Regions from separate parts of the Homo sapiens genome. Here regions 1, 2, 4 and 5 are each linked to region 3. The links come from fine-mapping of genetic effects on gene expression. A gene starts in region 3. Each other region holds a variant in brackets. All regions are shown on one strand. Distances are between the middles of the regions.

Region 1 (5,134 bases), 130 kb before region 3:
CCGTTTCATGTCAGATAGACTGTGTTGTTCTGTGACAGATTCAATAAATATGAGCGTCATCCACTTAACCCTTGGAATTAACTCTACATCTTCTAGAACTGATTAAGATTTTTTTTTTTTTGCATATACTCAATAAAGATGATGTCCTCCTGCTGCTGCTTTAATGATAAAGGGAAAGTTTCATTTTTTTTTTTTTTTACTAGATTCACTTAAGAAGATTTGAATCTGATAGTCTCATTCTGATAGTCTCAACTATTACAGTTGCTCTAATTAACTGTTAGTTTAACCCTCTACAGTTAGTTGATACAATGATTACTCTTATAAGACCTGTATTCTGTTTTATTGTTGCTTGAACTTTGGATTTTGATATTATGAGTGTATGTTTCTGGTTTTTTTTTTCCTCCTCTCTTTTGTTGGCTTTCCATTTTCTGGTTTGTACAATTATTAATTTGTGTTTACAGGGTGGATGCGTAGACTCGACCAACCAAAGCCTGGCGCTACTACTCATGACCCTTGGACAGCAGGATGTTTCCAAAGTCCTGCTAGGCCCTCTCTCTCCCTACACGTAAGTTATTCTTTTTCAACCTCGTTATTCTGTCCAGTGTAATTTTCTCATTGCCCAAAATGACAAAGGGTGTTGTGCTGCACAGAGCCTGCACTATGAACACCTGCTTGTGTTTATCCTCAAATCAGCCAGCAGTTGTCACTCTTAACCTGGTGTTTATTTTTACATACAAGGATTTTTGCATTTCTTTCCTTCCTTAATCCCAGGTAACTGAAATTGCATGATCTCTATTGGGCAGTTATTTTGTTCGTGCTTTAGATTTTGTTTCCAGGTTAGAGGTAAACTCCTGGTTTGGTGTAGCTTGGATTTTATTACTAGTTTTTTTTTAATCATTCTTTTCCTTAGCTGTCTAACTTGCTGTGGGAAAACAGGCTTTTTGTCTAAGATGATAGGATATGAGCTCACTGGGAAAGATGACAAAAGACAGAGTTTGTATTAATGCTACTGGACTAGTAGGGAATTGTAGAAGTGAGTTTGGATTGTTGAATGTTAGCAGAAGTTGACTGCTGTGGTGTAAAAGCAAGCACTCTTCAAAAAGAACAGTGTCAGAAGACTTGAATTATAAATGACACTGTGAAAGAAGCATTTCCTATTGATAGTAAATGAGGTTGCGGAAAACAGCCTATTTGAGTACTGACATTGTGTGTGTGTGTTTTCACGTGCTTGCATACTTGGAGATCATCATATGGCCCATCTGAGGTTGGTGAGCTGGGTGGCAGGGAATATTCAGGTAGATATGAGACTGAACTGTCCTTTTTCGGTTATCATGGTACCGATGCTGTATATCTGAAAGGTACAGTACTGTGATAACTGAAGAATGGTGGTGCCATCACATTGAGAAAGGGTTGAGGACTGCGGTGGGGCTATGCACCCTTGGGCCATGGCGTTGGGGGCATGAAAACCAGGAGCTTGAAATAAATTCTTATGGAGGCTTTTTTTTTTCTTTTTTTTTTTTTTTTTGGAATTCGTGGTGGGAGGTTTTTTTAGAACAGGAAAATGGAAGAGAATACATTCTGTTAGCAGAGAGGGAAGACTGATAAGCAGGAAACTGGTAAGGACCACATTATCTCCTGATAGCTTGTGTAAAAGTATTTCGTAGGACAGGATACCTAAAATTGAGTAATCCTAAATGGCGTGGTAACATCAGTAGTAAACAATGCTAAAATAGACTTGGTAGTTAAGTACTTGGAGAGGAGATGAGGGCTGGAAGAATGGCACCCTAGGTACAGAGACTCGCTTCCTGTAGAGAGCTCACTGGAGGCGGCTGCCAGCTGTGTGGCCACTGTGGCCCCACCGGCTTTGTAGCTGGGCTCGTAGCTGCCGTTTCCCAGCCCTTGCTTCAGGCCTGGGGAAGTCCTGCTTGCACACACGGTATGAGGTATGGGGTGTTGTCTTGAATGTGTGTGGTCCTGGGGCATGGGGTTTGGCAGAACATTCTGTGAAAATGGAATACATAT[A/C]TGTTTTTTTTCGTGACACTTTTTTTCTTTTGCTTTTGGAGATTTTTCAATTTGGCTCCAGGACCTGTATGATGTTTTCAAGCTTTGCAGAGATGCTCAAGATATGACTGGACATTTTTGAAAGTTCCTGTGTCCTCTTCAACACATCTTCTCACCAAACATTAATTGTAGTGTCTTTTCTTCCAGAAAACTTGCATAAAATGACTTCCTCTCCTGTGAAAACAGTGTCCTGCTCTGAATGGAGCTTTAAAGGAGTAGCACAAATTGTAAGATGATGTATCTTGAGGCTGGGGCTTAGAGATATTCTGCTGCCTCCCAGAGCTTTGTGCAGACGGGTCTGCCAGGGTGGGAAAGGGAAGCCTCCGTTCTTTTTGGTAAGCTAGCATAAAGACAGGTAAGGGAGTCTATTTTCAAGAAAGCTGGATCTGTTTCATACTCTTTCTGCCCCTAATCACTATGGACAGCTCCAGCAGCACAAAGAGATGAAGGGCAAAGGCAGGATGCAGCAGGCAAAGTTAACATTGTATTTGTGAGTACAGTTGAGGATAAAAAAGGGATGAAATCCACGGTGAGGACCATCATGGTGGGGGAATAGTTTATTCTAATGGATTCAAGAGCTTTGGAGACCAAACTAACACATTTATTTTTATGTGTAGTTAAAGTCATAGAAACCTGTTTTGTGAAACCTCAGATTTCTAAAGAAAACCAGAAGCAAGACCTTCCTTGGTTTAAAAAAAAAAAAGCATTTCTTCAAGCAGTTTGGACCTGTTTTTCGTGTGTATAAAACAGCTTTTTAAATGTCTATGTAAAGAGCATTGGGATTGCTGTTGGTGGTTTTCTGTGCTACTTGAGAAAGTAAGTCTGTATGTGTGAAACTCTTTTTTTTTTTTTGAGACAGAGTTTCGCTCTGTCGCCCAGGCTAGAGGGCAGAGGCGCAATCTCCGCCCACTGCAAGCTCCGCCTCCCGGGTTCAACGCCATTCTCCTACCTCAGCCTCCCGAGTAGCTGGGACTACAGGCACCCGCCACCGTGCCTGGCTAATTTTTTGTATTTTTAGTAGAGACGGGGTTTCACCATGTTAGCCAGGATGGTCTCGATCTCCTGACCTCGTGGTCCACCCGCCTTGGCCTCCCAAAGTGCTGGGATTGCAGGCCTGAGCCACCAAGTCCGGCCAATGTGAAACTCTTTTAGAAAGGCCCAAGAGATTTTTTTTCAGTAGAATAAAATACTGTTGGATAATCACTGGTATATGAAGATTCTATTTCTGTTAAATTTGTTGAGTTTTAGGTGGCTTACAGTTAGTGACAGTAGTTGCACCCTCCATTCAACAAGCTTAATTTTACAGTTTAGGGAGGGAGGATTTATACTTTTGGATTAACAGCAAGAAAAATAGCAAAAATTAAGATGCATCTTAATTAGCACTTTCAGAAATTATTTGTGGAATGAGACTGCAGTTACCAGAGCTCTCTGCATTCTGCCAGTGCACAAGTCTTGGAGTCCAGCCTATCTGGACTTAAGGCTCTACCACGCGCTACCAGGAGACCGTGGAAATGGTATTTAGCATCTTGGAGCCTTGGTGTCATTTGTAGATAAGGTGCGTGGTCCTGAAGTCCTGGACTTGTGGAGATGGAACGAAGCTTAGATTAAGTCAGATGCTTAGTGCTCCTGGCAACGTGCCTGAGGAGCTGTCAGTGCTGGGTGCTGTGGTTCCTGCCTGGACACCCCTTCACCCTGCTGCAGTCCAGTCCCTTGGTCAGGTCACTTTTTTTTTTTTTTAACTGCTCCTTGAGGAGCAGGACTACCCCAGAGGCAGTGTGGCTAGAGTAGCCCGGTCAGGTCACTTTGAACCCCAGGAGGCCTAGTAAACTTGCTTTGGGTGATTTTAGGGTTTAAGTCATCTGTAAGTGGTCTGCCCAGCTACCTATAAATCTATATCCATTAATTTTAAATTATGGATTAAAAAATTTTAATTTCTAGTTATTATTTTTATGACTGACTTCCCCTAGTCACATTACTGAGCAAACTACACACATCTTATTGATCCTAAGAATTCTGTAAGGTAGATGTTTATTTAAACAACACCGTGTTTACTGTGTGCAAGATGTTGTTTTAAGCACTCAGACATAATAACTTATCTGGTTTTCATCATAACTTCATAAGGGCAAAAAAGGCAAGTACTATCATGTGCACCGTCTTACAGGTGATGGGATTGAGGCACAGCGAGGTCAAGTTACGTGCCCAGGGTCACACAGACAGTAAGTGGGGTTCAGACCTGGACAGTCTCCTCCAGTCACTGCTTCCCTTACCCACTGTGCTCTTTTTTTTTTTTTTTTTGAGACGGAGTCTCCTCTGTCGCCCAGGCTGAGTGCAGTGGCGCGATCTCAGCTCACTGCAAGCTCTACCTCCCAGGTTCGTGCCATTCTCCTGCCTCAGCCTCCTGAGTAGCTGGGACTACAGGCGCCCGCCACCATGCCCGGCTAATTTTTTGTATTTTTAGTAGAGACGGGGTTTCATCGTGTTAGCCAGGATGATCTCGATCTCCTGACCTGGTGATCCACATGCTTCGGCCTCCCAAAGTGCTGGGATTACAGACGTGAGCCACCGTGCCCGGCCAACCCATTGTGCTCTTATGTAAGAGCTGGGATTCCATCCATATCGCTGGACTCCAAGCACCTTGCCTGAGGCAGGATGCCATGCTACATCTTTTCAGCAAAGTCCTCGTTTCAAATTCTGCTGTAAAATGATCTCTTTCTATCTTTAGTTGGAAATCTAAAATAAACCGTGACTTTTTTTTTTCTAACTTTAGTTAATGACCTTTTTCCATGACTGTGGAAGTGCTGAGGAGCTAGAGGACACTGTCCTTGTTAAACACCAACTGAGTGGGGCTTCCTAGCCCACTCAGCCTAAAGCTCAGCCCTCTGAAGAACCAATGAGGAAACCAGTGGGGAAACTGGGAACTGCCGGCCAAGCCTGCCTCTACTTGGGGTCAGTGGCCTCACTGCATTCCATGAGCTTGCACAGTACCACTATGTCTTAGTTTTGTGAAGCGTTTAAATTCTGTAAAGCCCTGTCACCTGATGTTTGAGCCCTAGAACATAATTGGTGTATGGTA
Region 2 (5,134 bases), 27 kb before region 3:
TAAGTCTGTTAATGAAAAAAAGGTGTACATTCAGGGGCTAAGAGTTAATTAAATTAATAATTTTTATTGATTCATCAAGAATATTCTTAAGTAAAACTGGTTTCTTCTTTTTTTTTTTTTAAACTGAGTTTCTAATGGTATAAAAGACAGTAATTGTTAAGTGTAGTTTGGTGACACTGCCTTGACTCATGCTAAGGCCCCAGCAGTTTGGTCCACTATTGTTTTTGCCCCATTGGTGTAAATGTCAACACAGTAAAAAAAAAAAAAAAAAGGCAAATATTATCTTCATATTATTTTGATCCCTAGGGGTCCGTGACTCATGTTTTAAGAACTATGGGACTTTCATGTTCTTACATGCAATTTTCTTCATATTTATCATCTTTGGAAGTTTTTCATATTCTCGAATCTATAAATTTATGCTTTCACTAAGTGTGGGAAATTTTCAGTGATTATTTTATCAAATACATATATTTTTTCTATTCTCTCCTTTTTTCTTGTGGGACTTCATTAGATAAATGTTAGAATATTTGATACTGTACTCTAATCCTTGAGGCTTTGTTCTCTTTTTTCACCAATGTTTTTCTCTCTTCTTCAGCTTGGATAATTTCTACCCACCTATCTTTAAGTTCAGCAACTTATCTTTCATCTTATGCTTTTAAGTTCACCCAGAGAATTTTAATTTTTTAAAAAAGAGAATTTAGGCCAGGTGCGGTGGCTCACACCTGTAATCCCAGCACTTTGGGAGGCCAAGGCAGGTGGATCACTTGAGGTCAGGAGTTCAAGACCAGCCTGGCCAACATGGCGAAACCCTGTCTCTACTAACAATACAAAAATTAGCTGGGCGTGGTACGCACCTGTAATCCCAGCTACTCGGGAGGCTGATGCAGGAGAATCCCTTGAACCCAGGAGGCGGAAGTTACAGTGAGCCGAGATCATGCCACTGCACTCCAGCCATGGTGACAGAGCAAGACTCTGTCTCAAAAAAATAAAAAAAAATTTTTAAAGAGAATTTGCGGCCGGGCGCGGTGGCTCACGCCTGTAATCCCAGCACTTTGGGAGGCCGAGGCGGGTGGATCATGAGGTCAGGAGATCGAGACCATCCTGGCTAACAAGGTGAAACCCCGTCTCTACTAAAAATACAAAAAATTAGCCGGGCGCGGTGGCGGGCGCCTGTAGTCCCAGCTACTCGGGAGGCTGAGGCAGGAGAATGGCGTGAACCCGGGAAGCGGAGCTTGCAGTGAGCCGAGATTGCGCCACTGCAGTCCGCAGTCCGGCCTGGGCGACAGAGCGAGACTCCGTCTCAAAAAAAAAAAAAAAAAAAAAAAGAGAATTTGCATAATCCCATTTTTTTGTATGCAGTCCTTTAATGAATTTAACAATGCCATACTTATTGCATGCATACACTTTCAGTTTTCTATTACTCTTTGAATAAATTAGGTTATGTCTTTTTAGAAATTATATATATAATTTAGAAATTTTATATTAATAAATAATCGTGTATATTTATAATGTATAGTGTGATGTTTTGATGTATGTATACATTGTAGAATGATTAAATCAAGCTGATTGACATATCCATAACCTCATATATTTTTTTTGTTGTGAGATAATTTAAAATCTACATTCTTAGCAGTTTTCAAATATATATTCAAATATACAATATAATTTTTTCACATAGTATATTTTTACTTCTAGAAAAAGTGTTTTGTTCCTGTTTATAGTTTTTATTTATTTAATGAGTATCCTATCTATCCATTCATTAAAAGCGTATTTTTCCCTCACATTTTTGAGCATAATATAATGGCTGCTTTAAAATTCTAGTCTTTATTCTTACAGCTAGATCATTTTGGGGTCAGGCTCCATTGATTTTTTCTTTGTATTATATCTTTGTGGGACTAGTAATTATGAATTTATCCTGGACAGTCACACCCCCCAAGGCCTGAGCTGAAGTGGCACATCATCCTCTGGGGAATTGGTGCCCTGGCCAATCTGAGCAACTGTGCATCCCAGAGATGAGATGATGTAGTACCATGCGTCCCAGGGAAGTAGGGCAGTGACTGAGCTGAGACACAACACTTATAGGCCAAATAACTCTACTGCCCTGCTTTCCTGGAGCTGGACTAGCTCTAGAGTCTGAGCTACAGAGACTCTGCTCCCTGGGGAGAGCCCTGCCCCTCTATCCAAGAAGTAGAGTCATTGTTCCATGCCCCACAGGGCTCAAAGGACAGCTGTGCTCTGCCATTTTGGGGTACTTGTTGCCATTGATCCTGGTTTCACAGAGTCTAGGATACTGCTGAGTCCCACTATCCCAGGGTCTAGAGTCACCACTGTATGATGCTTCATCCTTTGGGATATGATTTGCTACTGAGCCTTATGACTCATATTCCCAAATTGCAGCCATACCCTGCTCTGTAGGCCCAAGCCTCCAGAGTACCCCTTCTTCCCCTGAGCCAGGCCAGTGCTTTGCCCTGCCCTCCAGGGGTAGAATCACACGCTCCATGGGCCTGAGCTGCCAGAAGATGCCTGAGAGTCACAGAACCTGAGTCTGTGGGCATGATACATCCAACCTGGCCACAGAGAACAAACCTGAACCCTAAGACCCAGGTGCCACAGTGGGGTCACAAGACCCTAAGCTTAGGTCTGTGTGGCCCCTCAGCCACCCTGAGCACCTGCA[C/T]CTGGAACTCAGAGCCTCTACAACTGCTTATAGGCCATGTCAGACCTGACACTAAGAGGGATCCCTTTGGCTAAGTCTCCATGTTGTGGGGAATCCCAAAATAGGAAGACCCTAAAAACTCTTGCCACTAAAGATATCAACAGCTTTCACTGCTGCTGTCACTGCCCCAAACTTCTTCAGCCTAGGTTAGTGTTAATGAATTAATTCAGCAAAGTTTCAGGATACAAAACCAACATGCAAAAATCAGTAGCATTTCTAGACACCAACAATGTACTAATGGAAAAAGAAATCAAGAATGCAATCGCAGTTATACTAGGTACAAAAACACCCCTAGGAATCAGTTTAACTAAGAGGTGAAAGATCTCTAAAAGGAAAACTATAAAACACTGATGAAAAAATTGAAGAAAACATAAATAAATGAAAAGACATGCCATGTTCATGGATTGGAAGAATTAATATTGTGAAAATAATCATACTGTCAAAAATGATCCACAGATTCAATGCAATCCCTATCAAAATACCAGTGACATTCTTCACAAAAATAGTGAAAATATAACAGCTGTACATATTTACAGGGTACGTGTGATTTTTTATATAGGCATACAATGTTTTGATCAGGGTAATTGGGGTATCCATCACCTCAAGCATTTATTATTTCTTTGTGTTAGGAGCAATTCTGTTGGCCAGTTTCTCTGGTGAAGTGCTTCTGCTGGCCAGAATGCAGAGCCACCACCAAAATTTGCATGTTAGCCACTATGAGCCCCGCCCCAGATGGCCTATCCCTGTTGATAATACCACCACCACCACCTCTGCCTGCCCTATGTTCCCCATGGGGCAAGACAGGAGTGATCTGTCTTCAAAGGGCTCCAGACTGGCGAGGAAGCTGAATGTTTGCCTCCAACTCTCTTTTCCCACAGTGGAAACTGGACCTAGGGGAGTTCTCTCTGTGTGGTGCTGTGCAGGCTTGGGGGAAGTATACTTTTCAGTCAAATTGAAGCTATTCCTTTTACCCTTTGAATGCAACTTGTCTCCATTCTCCTGTCCCAGAGGATGTCTCAGCCTTACTTTCAAGTTCTGAGGTATTCACAAAGGAATTCTTGTCCATGGATAGTTGCTAGTTGGATTTCTGTGAGGGAGACTGGAGCCAAAGAACTATTCTGACAACTTGCTCTTAGATCAAGCTTTCTTGTTTTGATTTCCTTCTCATTTCTTTTTCTGTATATTTTAAAGTTTTTTCCTTAGTGGTTATCTGGAGATTACAATTAATATCTTAACTTTACATCAGTAAAGTTTAAATTAATACCAATACCTTATTTTCAATAGTAGGTAAATACTGTACTCCTTTCCAGCCCCATCCCTTTCCCCTTTCTGTTGTTATTGTCACAATTATATCTTTATACATTGAATGCACATTAACATAGCATTTTAATAATTGTTTTATTCATTTGTCATTTAAATCATATAGAAAAGAGTTATAAACCATATATGCAATACTATTGTCCTTTATATTTACTTATGTAGCTACCTTTACCCTTGTTCTTAGTGTCCGTCCCTTTCACCCTGGAGGAGTCCCTTTAACATTTATTGTAGGGCAGGTCTACTACTGACAAACTCTCTCAATTTTTATTTTATATTATGAATATGTTTTATTTCTCCATTAAAAATAGGCTTTGTTTTCTACTCTGGTGGCTGAGGCACAAGAATCCCTTGAACCTGGGAGGCACAGGTTGCAGTGAGCCAAGATTCTGCCACTGCACTCCAGCCTGGGCAACAGGGTGAGAACGAGAGACTCCATCCTCCACCCCCACCCCTGGCAAAAAAAAGGCTTTGTTTTTAATAGTAGTAGTGAGCATTTTGCATTCCTACCAGCAATCAATGAGTTCCTGTTACTCTACATCCTTGCCAGCATTTGGTGCAGTGAGTGTTTTGGAGTTTGGTCATTCTTATAGGTAGGTAGTAGTATCTTATTGTTTTAATTTGCAATTCCTAGTGAATCTATATGTGTCTTTGTATTTAAAGTGCTTTTTTTATTTTGTAGACAACATATATTTGGGTCTTATTTTCTTTCTTTCTTTCTTTGTTTCTTTTTTGGTGGGGGACAAGGTCTCACTCTGTTGCCTAGACTGTAGTGTAGGGGCATGATCGTAGCTCACTGCAGCCTCCAACTCCTGGGCTCAAGCAACCCTCCTGCTTCAGTTTCCCCAGTAGCTAGGACTACAGGCAAGTGCCACCACACACAGCTAATTTTTAAATTTTGTGTAGAGACGGGGTCTCACTATGTTACCTAGGCTGGTCTTGAACTTCTGGTCTAAAGCAATCCTCCCATCCTGGCCTTCCTAAACACTAGGATTACAGGCATGAGCCACTGTGCACAGCCTAGGATCTTTTAATTCACTCTGGTAATCCTTTTAGTTGGTGTATTTAGACCATTGATTAGTGATTATTAATATAGTTGGATCA
Region 3 (5,134 bases):
TGCTTCATCTTTCTATGTGGGGAGACAGAAGATTTCTCAATTCTATAGGCTTATGAATAATATACCCCTTGTCCACCTTGTCTTCCATACCCACATCTCTAATATTAAGAAAATAACCTGCTCCCCCACAAAAATATCCTCAATATTCACCACTTCCAAATGGCTTCTCCCTGCAATTCACCAATTTCAAATGGCTTCTCCCTGCAAACAGGCTGTGGACAGTAAGAGATACCATGCCTAGTTACATAAGTATATCACTGCAAAATATAGAAACATCACTTATAATGAAAGTAATACTGTTTCAGAGTTCTAAAACAAGCATTTTCTTCCCCTCACAAAATATCACATTTCCATTTCCACAGTTGTGATGCTTTTCATTTACCCATGACGTTAAGCTCATCTTTAGCTCTTCTTCATTATGTGGGTCTGTGTTCTAGCTTTTACCTCAGTAGCAGTTTTTGTTTGCAGGAAAAAAGGAACTCTTTTGGTAGTCACTGTTTGTAATTGCGGCCTTGATATTCTAAGCCATTGAGTCACAATTAATAATTAGAAATTCTTACTAACTTTGCCCATATATTACCTATGAAGCAGTAGCCGTAGGAATGCAATTTTCCTGTAAATCCCTCCCTCTTATACAGCTCTAGTTCATTATTTAAAAGATTCAGGGTGAATTCAAGTAATTTCCTATGCTGCTATCATTTGCTTAAAGACCTTTTGCAATGGGTCTTATGTAAGAAGAAATGCAGGAGTTGCTTTGGTGAGGTTTATTTAAAGAAACCATTAAGTGCAAGACAGACCTGAAGAGCAGCATCAGTTGTGTATGGGGAAACAGGAGCTATGAATGCGTCACTTCATTTAGGTTGACAGAAAGAGGGCTAATACTTGAAAAAAATCCCTACACGATCTGGTGCCAGGCTACTTCTTTGGCCTCACCTCTTACCACTGCCCCCTCCTTCCGTGTCCTCCAGCCACAGTGACCTCTTTCCTGATCCTTGAACTTGCCAAACACTTTCCCTTCTCAAGGTCTTTGCCTTCAGGAGTCCCTCTGCCTGAAATTCTTTTCCCAGATAGTCATGGGACTGGTTCATTCTCATCCTTCAGATCTCTGCTCAAATGTCACTTATTCTAGGAAATCGTTCCTGGCCACCGTAAAATAGCACACCCCCTCCTCACTTTCTACTCCTTTTCTTTGTTATTATGTATATGGCAGCAGAAAACTATGCATTTTCTTAGTGGCAATTACACACCCCGCACATTATGCATTTAAAGCGTTGTTTGTTGTTTTGTCGCTTCCATCAGAATACAATCCAGTAGGGCAAGGAGTGTGTGGGGTCGTGTTCACCTGGTATCTCTGGGGACCTACAGCCCGGCACCTAGTAGACACTCAGTAAATATTTGAATGAATGAATGAGGCCCTTTGGCAGCCGGGAAGCCCGTCACAGCCGTTGTCTCCACCCTCTCCCGGGCTACACCAGGCCACGCCGGTAAAGTTGTTTCTCCTCTAGGAGAAACATTCGCTAGGCCTTGTTGCCAACCCGCAGGCGGCTGGGCGCTTCATCCCACCCTCACCCCTTTCCAGCCAAGGTGGCTGATGGGAGTCAGGCTCTCGAGGGCGCATTGCCACGAAACAGCGTGTGTGAGCGCGTTGTCCCCGGCCCCCGGCGCCACTTCCCCTCGGCCTAGCAGCCTGGACTGGGGAAGGACGGGTCTGCTGTACCCGGGAGGTGGAAGGAAAAGCCGAAAGCGGAGAAGTGTGCGGGAGGGGAGTCTCCGCGCGGAGGCAGCCCGGCCTCCTCCAGTGCAGGCTGCGCGCTGGGGAGCCAGCCAGGGTGAGTCACTCCCGGCCGCTTCCCTGGAGGGCGGCGGCCACACACACACCCGCCCATCTAGTGAGGGCCGGGCCCAGCGCTGGCGCCTAGCTCCAGCCGGGCACCAGCGTTTCGCGAGGCGCCGCCGCCTTAACTTCCTTGCGCGCTCACGCCCAGGGGCCGTCCCAGGAATCTCCACGCGCGCTCGCCGGCTTCCCGAGAGGCAGCTGCCCTGCGTGGCCCGCGCCTGCCGGTCCCGCGACCAGCACCGAGCGGCGCACGCGCACTGCAGGACGCGCGTCCGGCTCTCCCCCAGCCTCTATCCGGCCCGGTCTCCTGCCATTCGGGGAGACTGCAGGCCAACCGGGAGGCTGAGTTCGAAGCTAGCAGGGCGGCGAAGCCAGTGTCGCCCGCGGCGTTGAGAAGACGGTGTGGCCCCGGAGAGGGTGGAGACAACTGTGACGGGCTTCCCGGCTGCCCGAAGTGGGAGTGGTGTGGGGCTGCAGGAAGGAGAGAGGAAGAGGAGCAGAAGGGGGCAGCAGCGGACGCCGCTAACGGCCTCCCTCGGCGCTGACAGGCTGGGCCGGCGCCCGGCTCGCTTGGGTGTTCGCGTCGCCACTTCGGCTTCTCGGCCGGTCGGGCCCCTCGGCCCGGGCTTGCGGCGCGCGTCGGGGCTGAGGGCTGCTGCGGCGCAGGGAGAGGCCTGGTCCTCGCTGCCGAGGGATGTGAGTGGGAGCTGAGCCCACACTGGAGGGCCCCCGAGGGCCCAGCCTGGAGGTCGTTCAGAGCCGTGCCCGTCCCGGGGCTTCGCAGACCTTGACCCGCCGGGTAGGAGCCGCCCCTGCGGGCTCGAGGGCGCGCTCTGGTCGCCCGATCTGTGTAGCCGGTGGGTGTTATCTCTGCCTGGCTTCTGGGTGGGGGGCAGCAGCTGTCTCTCCACCCCCTTCCTACCTTTTGGTCCCGCCTGCCCCCTGCTAGTGGCAGCAAACTTCTGAGCCAGAAAAATCTTCCTCTTTAAGACGACACCTAGAACGAGTCTTGCTGGTGATATTTGCTTCCATTTGTGTCTTATAATTCCCTCGCTCCCGCCTCCTTATTCCTTTTTAAAATTTTCTAGACACTTAAACAGCCTAGAAAAAGCATTTGTTTCCCCTGGATTTATGTGGTAGTAGTTAACTGCTGCTTCTGTTTTTAGGTTTCAGAAGCAGGCAACAGGAACAAGATGTGAACTGTTTCTCTTCTGCAGAAAAAGAGGCTCTTCCTCCTCCTCCCGCGACGGTGGGTGTGCTGTCCTTTATCGCTGCAGTAAAGGCGAAGGTGTCTGGAGCTGGGAGTGCGTGCGTAGGGAAGGTTGGAAGCGTGTGAAGAGAGGCAGGGCTCATTGTTGCTTACTCTTCTGAAAATGTCAGTGCTAAACTTTTAATGTTGATCTGGGAGAGTAATTTTGGGGTGTTTTGTTGTTCGTCTTGGATCCTTTAAGAAACATTTTTTTGTTGGCTTTACACATAACGTGACTTTGCAGAGAAACGAAAAACGTTGTCCATTACCCTTTCTTCTTAAGCAGCCAGAGATTCTTAATCCTTTAAAGAGGAGTATTTCCAAGCAATAAGAGATAGCTTTTGGGAGAACACGTTAGCTATTCTTGCTGGGGTTTCTGCTACCACATTGAATGTTTCCTCATGGTTTTATCTGCCTAAGCTTGCTGTGTCGGTTGAATTTACCCAGTTTGTTTTCCAGTAATTACTAATCTGTTAGGAGAAACTCCATTTCTCTGAATGAAAGGGTAGGAGCGGCTGAGTATGGAGAAGGAAACTGGAAGTGGGAATAAGGGAAATGATTGCTTTTGGTTTCATAATAAGTTTGTACAGTGAGTTGTTGGGCTACTGCAAATAAAGATTTTGTATCCCTTCTCCAGAATGCTTGGGACCAAAAGTGTTTTGGATTTTTTTTAAAAATTTTGGAATGTTTGCATATACAAAATCAGACATCTTGAGGATGGGACCCAAGTGTAAATACGAAATTCGTTTGTTTCATATAGACCTTATTCACACAGCCACTAAGTCATTTGCAATATTTTTAATACGTCTGTGCATGAAACAAAGTTTGTATTAAGTACCTATGCGGGGAATTTTCCCCTTGTAGCATCATGTTGGTGCTCAAAATGTTTCAGATTTTGCAGCTTTTCAGATAAGGGATGATCAGCTTGTATTTTGATATAACACCCAGAACATTTGAAGATGAATAATCAATTTTTGGCCTCCCTTCCCCCATCCGCCTCACCTTATACCACTTTAAGTGTGAGAATTATTTGCTTGTACATGCATTTGTCTGTTGGTGTGTAACGTATGTACAGACTGGATGTATCCAGCACTTGCCTTAATAGTACATGTATTTACCTGAATAGGAAAGCTGCAGTACTTGCTGGCCAGAAGAGCACACCATGCTTGTTTTTGCTCTAACTGAATATCCTGTATTTGCAATTTATAGCAGTTTTAGGGACTCATTAGGGAATTTTGTGTGTGTGTGCCTTTGGTGATTTGAGACAGGTGTCTCAGATATGGGAAGGGAATATGACATTGTTTCTCTTTCACCTGGCTATTACTGAAAGGTGGGATGCTTTTGAGGCAGAATAGGAAAGTGCATTGGCTTTGGAGTGAGATCTGGATTTGAATCCTGGTGTTCTTGCCACTTAAGAGTTGCATTATTTACGGCTGGTCATGGTGGCTCACGCCTGTAATCCCAGCACTTTGGGAGGCTGAGGAAGGAGGATCACTTGAGGTGAGGAGCTTGAGACCAGCCTGGCCAACATGGTGAAACCCCATCTCTACTAAAAATACAAAAATTAGCCGGGCGTGGTGGTGCACACCTGTAATCCCAGCTACTCGGGAGGGTGAGGCAGGAGAATTGCTTGAACCTGGGAAGTGGTGGTTGCAGTGAGCCGAGATCTCACCACTGCACTCCAGGCTGGGCAACACAGCAAGACTCTGTCTAAAAAAAAAAAAAAAAAGAAAGAAAAAAAGAGTTATATTATTTACGACTCTTTTAGCTTCACTTTCTTATAAGATTGTTGTGAGAAGTGAGTAAGACACATGCAAAGTGGTAAACTGCCTGGCTGTCATAAAAGTCTTGGCTACTATCACGGCTGGGAGGCAAAGGAGATTCAGAGAAGGGCAGAATGACTGCATAAGGTGATCTGCCTGTAACTCGTGTTTCCTCCTTTCTAGTATAAAGAGATAAAGGACTTCAAGGTCTTAAACTGGTGAGGGAGTATTACAGCCTTTGTATGGAAAGGTTTGACTTTGTGTCTCTGCTTAAACCCCCATTGT
Region 4 (5,134 bases), 42 kb before region 3:
ATATGCCTACGGTTTGCACTTCTCACAGGAAAATTATTCATAATAGTGAAAAATTAGTCACAGCCTAAAATCTAACAACAGGAAATAGTTTAACTAGATTATGGTGCATCCACTCAATGGAAGATTATACAGCCATTTCAAATAACGATTATGAAAAAAACATTATATGTAATCTATATTGTCCTAGTGGAAATATCTTAGGTAAGTCAATGGTAGCGAATCAGAAAAATATTGAGACTCAGTAGTTTTTAGCCACATGAAAAATTCTTGCAGTATATAAAAAACAATGTATACAAAGAAATGCACCAAAATTATTATTATGACAGAAAAAGGGTGGGAGAAGTGTTTTTATATTTAATCAAGAGCTGTACTGTATAACTGAATTGTTTGCCAGCGGAGCAGAAGGCAGATGGCTTGGTTAAACTCACACATTCTTGCCCACTCCAGCTATTTTTATAAGGCTCTTACGGTTTTAGGATTTTCTTACATTTTTGTTGATTCTTGTACTCTATTTACTTCTTCTCCAACTTCATTATGGAATATTATCTAGTGTTTATTATTTGTCTGGGGTCCCCATTGATATTAGCAAAAAACACTGGTCATTGGGTTGTACTTGATTATTTGAGTCTTCAAAGCTCCTTGTCATTGCATATTGCGGGACTGAGAGTTAATATAAGGATATGATTCTATCAATCAATTTTCACAGATATATATGTCACTGAACACGAAATATGGGATATATTAGTCAGCTATTGTTACAATGCTGAGTAATAAACAGCTCCAAAACTCAGTGGCTCATAAAAATAAGCCTTTATTTTCCTTGTTCATGAGCCTGTGGATGATCTGGGATGCTCTGCTTCTTTTGCAGGACAGCTGGGCTTATATCAAAGCCTCAAGTTGGGATCAGGCCTGCTTCACATGTTCCCAAATCCCATTAGCTATCTGAGGCATATTCTTCTCCTGGTGGATTATGAAAGGCAAGAGGCCAAGTCAGGAGAATTGCTTGAACCCAAGAGGCAGAGACTGCAGTGAGCCGAGATTGTGCCACTGCACTCCAGTCTGGGTGACAGAGTAAGACCCTGTCTAAAAAAAAAAAAAAAAAAAAAAAAAAAGAGGCCAAGTCAAACTACTTAAGGCCTATGCTCATGTGTGCTATCATTTAATTGATCAAACCAAATCACATATGTAATTATGCCCAACATCAATGAGAGAGGGAAATAACTCCCATTAGAAGTTCACCTGACAGAAGGAGGGGGTAAAGAATTGAGAGCAATGATCTAATGTACCATAGGGACAATGTACAAACAGATTAATTTAAATAATTGGAAAGAAATACCTACTGACTTGCAGAATAGGTAGGATTATCTCCATGTGTGAAAAATATCCTATTTTTCGATTAGACTAATGAAAACTTAATAAAATAGTTGTTACCATATATTTCTTTTAAAGAATATGCAGTATCAATATATTTTAAGGACAGCTAAACATCCTGGGTGTTTAGCCAAGTAGAAACTGGTCCAGCTTTGACTATCCTGGGTGTTTAGCCAAGTAGAAACTGGTCTAGTTGTAAGTGGATTTTTTTGTTGTTGTTTATTCTTGGGGACCGAGTCTCGCTTGGTCACCCAGGCTGGAGTGCAGTGGTGCGATCTTGGTTCACTCCAACTTCTGCCTCTGGGGTTCAAGAAATTCTTGCGCCTCAGCCTCCCTAGTAGCTGGGACTACAGGTGTGTGCCACTACACCTAACTATTTTTTTTATTTTTATTTTTTGTATTTTTAGTAGAGATGGGGTTTCACCATGTTGGCCAGGCTGGTCTTGAACTCTTGACCTCAAGTGATCCACCCGCCTTGGCCTCTCAAAGTGCTGGGATTACAGGCATGAGCCACTGTTCCCGGCCTGTAGGTGGATTTCTGGCTTTGGGTTACACACACACACTTGTTTATAGGAGTTTGTAAGTAGGGAGTAAAATGTACTCTGAAAGGAAATCACTTGATAGGAACCACTATTTGGTAAGAAGAGGTGACT[C/T]AAGAAAAGAAGTTCCTTGTGGTTTTAAACTTTATTATGCTCCAGGTCCCTACAAAAATATGCTTTCTTTCTCCTTCTTCTTCTTCTTTTTTTTTAATAAGCTGATTTAAGGCAAAAGCTTTTAGCTAAATGTTACTGCTTTAAATTTTTCAAAACGAGAACACTTCTCAGCAAAATTTTTTATTTCTTTGTTTTAGTGTAGAAAGCAAAAGCAAGGGATAACTAAGTCTGAGTTCAAGCTAGATATATTTGTTTACATTGGAACAACAGCTTTAAAGTCTAGGAAAGAAGTGCTGATAGCTCAGAAGAAAAAGCAAGTAATGGGTTCCAGTAAAGTTGGTTAGGGAATTTTGTTTGTTTAATTTTTAAATTAGTAGGGGCCTTTCTCCAAAATGTTTGTTTTTAAGATTCAGGTTAAAATTTGCATAGATACAAGAGATGTGGGAATTAGTCAATATCAGAGAAAGATGCTGAGGTAATTTCCATTTCAGAAAATTTATCTAGCTTTGCCTAAATGGATAAATGGAGACATTTGAAGCATAAGAGTTTGGCATTTCATGTCCCAGCTTAGAGGACTTCCACTTGAAACAGAACAATTGGTTTGAAGCACAGTATCTAGATCCTTTCTCCAAAGAGAAAGAAAATTGCCCATTCAACCAGCAATTATCTCTAATTAAGGAATGGAAGCACAAGTTTTCGGTAGTATCACTACCTGGCAGTCTGCATGCAATCAAGCAAGGCAAGGTTCCTATATCCACAGGAGTTTTTTCTTGACTAGAAAAAAAAATTAGGATAATTAAGCAAGTTGTAGCAATCATTTTTTACGATCAAAAAGACTGCAACAGATTTAATTAATTCTTTGGTAGATGCAGAAAGTAGTATTTATGCTTTTCTAAAGGCCAGTATTCACCGTGGACTAACAGCAAAATGTTTCAATACCATCTCAGCAGAGTCTGTATTTGATTTCACAGTATTCTGTAAAGTGTCAGGCATTTTAGAGATATCGCTAACAGAAAGGTTATGCTTTCTAAATACAGTCACACAACTACTTCGTACCTATGATATAATTAGACTGTGACACTCTTGAGGACATCTAAACTTCAACCTGTTTAAAAATATAAATCCCTATGAACGATCAAAGAAAATGTGCTTCAGGCAATTTATCTGCAGTAAAATGATTTAACTATGGGACAATCATGTTCATTTCTTCATATCTTTAATATAAAGTTTACCATTTAAAATGATTTCATTGCTTAGCTGGAAAGCTATACTCTACTGACTAGTATAAGATTTTTTAAAATCTTGTTTGTTTCTTCTTCAGAGAAATGGTAGAGTTTTTAAAATAAAAAGTGCATTTATTTCTTTATAACATTAATATCTGTCACTATAAATAACTTGAAAAATCTTCCAAAGTGTCAACACCTGAAGTCAATTGTGTGTTTCCTTTCAGGTTTTTTTTTTTCAAGAGAATTAAATCGTTTATTGATTATGCATGATAATGGAAGGTACACAAACTTCATTCCCATCTATAATTTTATTGGGTACCATTATTCAATTTAGATATATTGCATAGGATATGCCAACAATCGTTTTAATAACCAATAATTCCATGATTTTGCTTTGCTAATCCCTTTTAATGGTGAACTTCAGGTCACAACAGTAACTATCAGTTCAACCACACCAAGGTTTCTGAAGACAATGGTTTCTCCACCCAAGCAGGTTGTATATAAATTCCAAAAAGAACCTGGCATCACCCTGAAGGAACTCTAACTTCACACTGTAGGGGAAATTTACCAAGATGGCTTCAGAGTAGAACAACTTTACACAGCACATTAAAAAAAAAAAAGACATTTATTCAGCGTCCCAATCAGGCTATTATATTTAGCAATCAACAGCATAGGTGAAAAAAAAATCTACATTAAAACCCTTTGTTGGCATGGTTTACACTTTCCACAGAACAGAAACTAAAATAACCTGTTACACAATTAGTCACAAATACAGTCCTCGAGTTTTTTGCCCACACACATGAGTATTTGTCTAAAACATGTCTGCTTTGTAGCAGCTGGGCCCTGCCACCACTGTGCTTGGCTGAGTTCACAAATCTGTTGTAACCTGTAGCTTCCCTGTCACTTCTCTGGCTCTCCTCTCCTGCTAAGCTTTGTTTCCTAATTAAAATCTTCTGCCACTGCCATAGCTACTGCTGCTACTGGAACCACCATAGCCACCTTGGTTTTGTGGTTTGGCAAAGTATTGGCCTCCACCACCACAGGGGACAGAGCTTCTGCCTCCAAAGTTTCCTCCCTTCAGGGGTCCAAAATTTGGAGACTGATTGTTGTAATTGTCAAAATCACTGTAGCTTCCGCCACCTCCAAAATTGCTTCCATCATTACCAAATCCACTGTAGTCATCCCCAGCCACCATATTCACCACCACCACAGCTGCCACCAAAGCCACCACGACCATGGAAGTTTCCTCCATGACCCAAGTTGTCATTCCCGCTGAAACCACCTCCATGACCACCACCAAAGTTTCCAGAACCACTCTTGCTTTGACAGGGCTTTCCTAGCTTCACAGCTGTGGCCATTCAAGTATGCTATTTCTGAATGACAGTCTTATCCATGGAGTCACCGTTGTCAAACGTTACAAAGGCAAAGCCCCTTTTCTTGCCAATGCCTCGGTCAGTCATGATTTCAATCACTTCAATTTTTTCCATACTGTTCAAAATGATCCCTTAGGTGATGTTCTTCAGTGTCTTCTTTAATGCCACCAACAAATATATTTTTCACAGTTAACTGGGCACCTGGTCTTTGAGAATTTTCTCTTGAGACAACTCTCTTTGCTTCTACAACTCTTTTTTTTTTTTTTTTTTTTTTTTTTTTTTTTGAGATGGAGTCTTGCTCTGTCGCCCAGGCTGGAGTGCAGTGGTGCCATCTCAGCTCACTGCAAGCTCCGCCTCTCGGGTTCATGCCATTCTCCTGCCTCAGCCTCCTGTGTGGCTGGGACTACAGGCGCCTGCCACCACATCTGGCTAAGTTTTTGTATTTTTAGTAGAGACGGGTTTCACCGTGTTAGCCAGGATGGTCTCGATCTCCTGACCTCGTGATCCGCCT
Region 5 (5,000 bases), 94 kb after region 3:
CAGCCATAATTCAGTACTAATATATAAAGGTGTGCTGGTATATTATATATTATACATTTATGTTATATATAATAATATATAATTGTTTAGACTCCTACTCTTGCTGTTGTAAGTAAACTAAAAACCAAAAATATAATGCTGTGTATCCATTAAGTTTTCTTTAAAGTTGTGAGTTTTGCCAATTTAATTTCTTTACCTATAATGGTCACATGTAAGTATAAAGATTTAAATTACATATATTTAATTATATTTATACTTAAGCCTTATTATTATTACTTATATTTTAATGCAGATATTCTGGTTCAGGAGTTTGTAAAATTTGGATCACTAGATACATATCTGAAAAAGAATAAAAATTGTATAAATATATTATGGAAACTTGAAGTTGCTAAACAGTTGGCATGGGCCATGCATTTTCTAGTAAGTAGTACAACCTTTTTATCAAAAGATACTATTTTATTTTATAAAACAATATACAAATTATCTTTACCTGGAAACAAAAAATAAATCTGTAATTGGATGCCAATTCATGTAAAATAGTCTGTGTTAGGTGATAAAAAGAGATTACTTTAGGCATATGTTTATGTATGTAAAATCACTTTTGAAAAAAAAGTTTTGTCATCCCATCAATATCTTAGAACTACTAATAGACAATCTGTATGTTGTGTCTTTTGGATTTAGAAAATTCAACCAAAAATTATGCAGAAGTATGTGCTTCTGTATTTTTGGGCCATTGTACATTATGGTCCATGAGAAAGCGGTGTTGACAGAGAAGAATACCAGGGGGACTGCCAGTCATCAGACCCCTCAGGGTGCACCTATGTCCTGCTGCAGAACTGAAGTAGTATTTCTTAATGTCAGCTCCCATCCAGAAACACAAACCATGTCAGCCTTAGAACTCATGTGAAATGGCATTGGTAGTTTTAATTTATTCATTTCATCACAAGCATAGATTATTGTGTTATTTAAAATGTAAAACAGGAAGCATAGGAGTCATAAATTTCCTTTTTTCTCAATGCATGCCTCCAAATTATTATACTATCATGTATTTTTCTTCTTTAAATCTGTTTTGGGGGCTTGAACATACTAAATGCTCCAGTACTTGTGGACTGATATTTGAATATATGTGCGTTTAACTCTAATAGGAAGAAAACACCCTTATTCATGGGAATGTATGTGCCAAAAATATTCTGCTTATCAGAGAAGAAGACAGGAAGACAGGAAATCCTCCTTTCATCAAACTTAGTGATCCTGGCATTAGTATTACAGTTTTGCCAAAGGACAGTAAGTTCTAGAAGGATTATATATAATGTTACTAAGCTTTACTTGGGCAGTGGTGTAAAGGGCATGTTGTTAATTTTCCTTGAATTCCATTTAATTTGTATGTTCCTGATTAATAATAAAATTATCACTTTTAGCAATTTAAATTGTTAGTTAAATCTTAGTCTCTATTTTTCTTTCTTATAAGCATATAACCATGGACTGTGAGGTGATTTTTTAAAAACAGTTTTAATCTCTAATTATGTATGAAGGATAGGATTTTATCCATTTTTAGTATGAAGTTTTGTAATATTCCTTGAGCCACAAGTAAATTTTCTAAATATTCTTTTCTTCTCGTCACTAAATAAAAATTTAGCCTGAGATTTTAGGATTTTTTTCTATCCTCTGTGAAGAAATTAGTTTAATTATCCAGCTAATTCTGACTTTTTAAAACCTTAAAAAAACTTTGATTTGTGTTTGTTCATCTTTACTACTTAACACAGTGGGTTAAAAATACAAATTTCAGTCAGATAGTTGAGAGGGGTTTTTTGGGTCTAGATAATTATAACTGAATTTTGTTATCTTAGATAATTTCTCTAATTGGATGTTCTAAATTTAGATTCTAAATTGATCAATTTTTGTGCACTGATGTGTCCTATTTAAGCTAATAGTACTTAAACTTAATGACTTATCTGACAGTGAAGACAGTGATAACTGGGCAGTAGTACAGGAGTAGGGAGTATGGCAGAAAATTCTTACAGGGTCTTACATCTGGTATCCTGGAAAATTTTATCCTTTGGAATCGGAAGTGAAGATGGAAAAAAATG[T/C]ATTCATATGGTGAAGGTATTTGTCAATCAATCTATTTGTCTGTCTGTCTATGTCAGAATACCAGAAAGTAGGGTTATATTGCTTCTTCCTTTCTTGAATACAGTCCTTCTGGTGGAATCAAAGACCACAGAAACTTTACTTGAGAAATTCCGTGATTTGAGCAGAGCCCACCTATATCAATTCCATATATCTAGAATATTTTGGTGCAATTTAGCCTTCCATCTGCCATAAATGCTTGTTGGTCCTTGGGTTTTTTTTTTTATCTGCAAGTGGGAATTGCCATGGCTATTAAATCATTAGAACATCTCTGAATGATGTAACATTACCTTTACTACTTACGCATTATGAAGAAATACCAAAAAGTATCATGGGGCAATTTTAGGATAAACTATATAAAAAAAAAAGATTTGGCCAGGTGCAGTGGCTCATGCCTGTAATTCCAATGCTTTGGGAGGCTGATTGCTTCCTAAAGCGCTTGGGTGGATCACTTAAGCCCAAGAGGTCAAAGCATAGTGAGCTGCAATCGTGCCATTGCACTCTAGCCTGAGTGACACAGTGACACCCTGTCTCAAAAAAAAAATTTTTTTTTTTTGAAGGTAAAACTAATGGAAAGAGGTTGAGAAAATGGTATGCCAGTTGAGACACTATGGTTTAATGGAAAGATTAGTTGATTCAGAACTCACTGTACAGGATTCTAATTCTGTCTCTGCTGCTAACAAATTGTGTGGCTTTGGGCAGATTACTCAATCATATGTCTCCATGTTGTCATTGTTAAAGATGAAATATTGAATTAGATGATCTTGAAGGTCCCTTCTGGTTCTTAAGCTTATGCAGTCATGTGCATGTGCACATCCAACCCCTCCAAAATAAAGAAAATAGGCCTGATTATTCAAATGATTTGAACTTTAAAGCTATTTACATATAAAAGATTGGTTTACTTGTGAATTATTTAACCCTACTCTGTTCGTATCATTTAAAAGTTCTTCAGGAGAGAATACCATGGGTACCACCTGAATGCATTGAAAATCCTAAAAATTTAAATTTGGCAACAGACAAATGGAGTTTTGGTACCACTTTGTGGGAAATCTGCAGTGGAGGAGATAAACCTCTAAGTGCTCTGGATTCTCAAAGAGTAAGTTTATATAGACTAAGTTAGAATTACTCTATCTCTGAACTTTCATATTTCTTTCACATGATTTGTATTTTTTAGCCCATCTAATTTTAAAAAGAAGGTTGGTGTGGCATTACACAATTTATTCTCAGTTTGTGGTTCTTTAATTATAGAAGCTACAATTTTATGAAGATAGGCATCAGCTTCCTGCACCAAAGTGGGCAGAATTAGCAAACCTTATAAATAATTGTATGGATTATGAACCAGATTTCAGGCCTTCTTTCAGAGCCATCATACGAGATCTTAACAGTTTGTTTACTCCAGGTATGTATTTGAATGATCTTATTGATTTTCCAGCTTTCTATCTTTATTGTATTTAATGAATCATTACTAATTTTTAATTCCTTTAAAACATTTTCTTGATGTCATTTGGGCCCTCTTAATTTCTTATGTTCATATGGCTTTTCATGCTTTATACATATTCTAATCTCCTTGACTGAGAATTATTTTCATTTTTATAAAAAGACCTTTTCTTTTTTTTTTTTTTTTTTTTTGAGATGGAGTCTTACTCTGTCGCCCAGGCTGGAGTGCAGTGGCGCGATCTCGGCTCACTGCAAGCTCCACCTCCAAGGTTCACGCCATTCTCCTGCCTCAGCCTCCTGAGTAGCTGGGACTACAGGCGCCCGCCACCACACCCGGCTAATTTTTTGTATTTTTAGTAGAGACGGGGTTTCACCGTGTTAGCCAGGATGGTCTCGATCTCCTGATCTTGTGATCCGCCCGCCTCGGCCTCCCAAAGTGCTGGGATTACAGGCTTGAGCCACCGCTCCCAGCCAAAAAGACCTTTTCTTTCAGTAACCTAATTTTAGTTTTCCATTTAGTGAGTTGTAAATTATAGTATTTTTTTTTTGCTTAAATTGACTTTTAAAAAACAATTCTCTTTAACATTTCTCATATTTTATAATTGATTGATTCTCTAAACATGAGCTGTATTTGTTTTGCTTTGTTCTCTCCTTTTTCAAAATACTGAGCTGAAATGCATGTGTTTGACCTATAGGTGCTTTCTACCCCAGTACTACTCACCTTTCTCACAATAAGTATCAGTATATTACCTTACTTTATGAATACTAAAACTTCTTATTTTGGAAAACAAAATTTTATCCTTTGCAAAGTCTCTCTTGAAGGCCTGTCAGATTATGGGTAATGATTAAAGGCTCCCATTAATATAATTGAAACTATTTGAGTTTCCCTGTATCATTTAGTATTTTTAACTCACGATTATTTTGGTCAACTTGAATGTATATCAGTTTAGTCCAGAGAATGTTATTTGCTAATTTAAGGTGATAATATTCTTTATTTCTCCAGATTATGAACTATTAACAGAAAATGACATGTTACCAAATATGAGGATAGGTGCCCTGGGGTTTTCTGGTGCCTTTGAAGACCGGGATCCTACACAGTTTGAAGAGAGACATTTGAAATTTCTACAGCAACTTGGCAAGGTAAATTGTCAGAATTTTTTCAAATAGAGTATAATCATTTCATTTAGGAAAAACTTAAGAGCGTTTCTAAAGTTCACTTTCTACAACATTTTAAGGAGTGCTTGTAGAAAAAAAAGGTTTGGTTGTCAGATGTTGGAGAAATGCTGTGTTAAATAAACAGCTATCTTTACTGAATGAAGGGGGCCAGCCCCTCCACACCTGTGGGTAATTCTCGTCAGGTGGGACCAGAGACTGAGAAAAGAAAGAAGACACAGAGACAAAAGTATAGAGAAAGAAAAGTGGGCCCAGGGGACCAGTGC

Evidence for each region. PIP is the estimated chance that this variant, and not a neighbour inherited with it, causes the effect.
Region 1: its variant is fine-mapped to the expression of JAK2 in tibial nerve (GTEx, PIP above 0.99).
Region 2: its variant is fine-mapped to the expression of JAK2 in whole blood (INTERVAL, PIP above 0.99).
Region 4: its variant is fine-mapped to the expression of JAK2 in whole blood (TOPMed, PIP above 0.99).
Region 5: its variant is fine-mapped to the expression of JAK2 in whole blood (TOPMed, PIP above 0.99).

What each region holds. Positions count from the first base shown.
Region 1 is chr9:4,848,986-4,854,119 of GRCh38, forward strand. It overlaps RCL1 (RNA terminal phosphate cyclase like 1), which reads left to right. Exons shown (of 9, transcript NM_005772.5): 8 at 462-565. It overlaps MIR101-2 (microRNA 101-2), which reads left to right and starts at 1,312; the gene lies at 1,312-1,390. It overlaps LOC124902113 (a long non-coding RNA gene), which reads left to right and starts at 1,382. Exons shown (of 2, transcript XR_007061402.1): 1 at 1,382-4,277; 2 at 4,829-5,134. The variant A/C (reference allele first, on the strand shown) is at 2,023.
Region 2 is chr9:4,955,794-4,960,927 of GRCh38, forward strand. No RefSeq gene overlaps it. Among named protein-coding and RNA genes, the nearest start is that of JAK2, 27 kb to the right of the region's middle. The variant C/T (reference allele first, on the strand shown) is at 2,675.
Region 3 is chr9:4,982,937-4,988,070 of GRCh38, forward strand. It overlaps JAK2 (Janus kinase 2), which reads left to right and starts at 2,336. Exons shown (of 25, transcript NM_004972.4): 1 at 2,336-2,694; 2 at 3,004-3,086. RefSeq lists silencers at 289-418, 1,869-1,918, 1,959-2,038, 2,429-2,758 and enhancers at 1,387-2,220, 2,149-2,288, 3,089-3,138.
Region 4 is chr9:4,940,477-4,945,610 of GRCh38, forward strand. It overlaps the pseudogene HNRNPA1P41. Among named protein-coding and RNA genes, the nearest start is that of JAK2, 42 kb to the right of the region's middle. The variant C/T (reference allele first, on the strand shown) is at 2,025.
Region 5 is chr9:5,077,161-5,082,160 of GRCh38, forward strand. It overlaps JAK2 (Janus kinase 2), which reads left to right. Exons shown (of 25, transcript NM_004972.4): 15 at 293-420; 16 at 1,146-1,284; 17 at 3,069-3,220; 18 at 3,373-3,523; 19 at 4,565-4,701. It also overlaps a transcript of INSL6 not described here. Among named protein-coding and RNA genes, the nearest start is that of JAK2, 94 kb to the left of the region's middle. The variant T/C (reference allele first, on the strand shown) is at 2,088.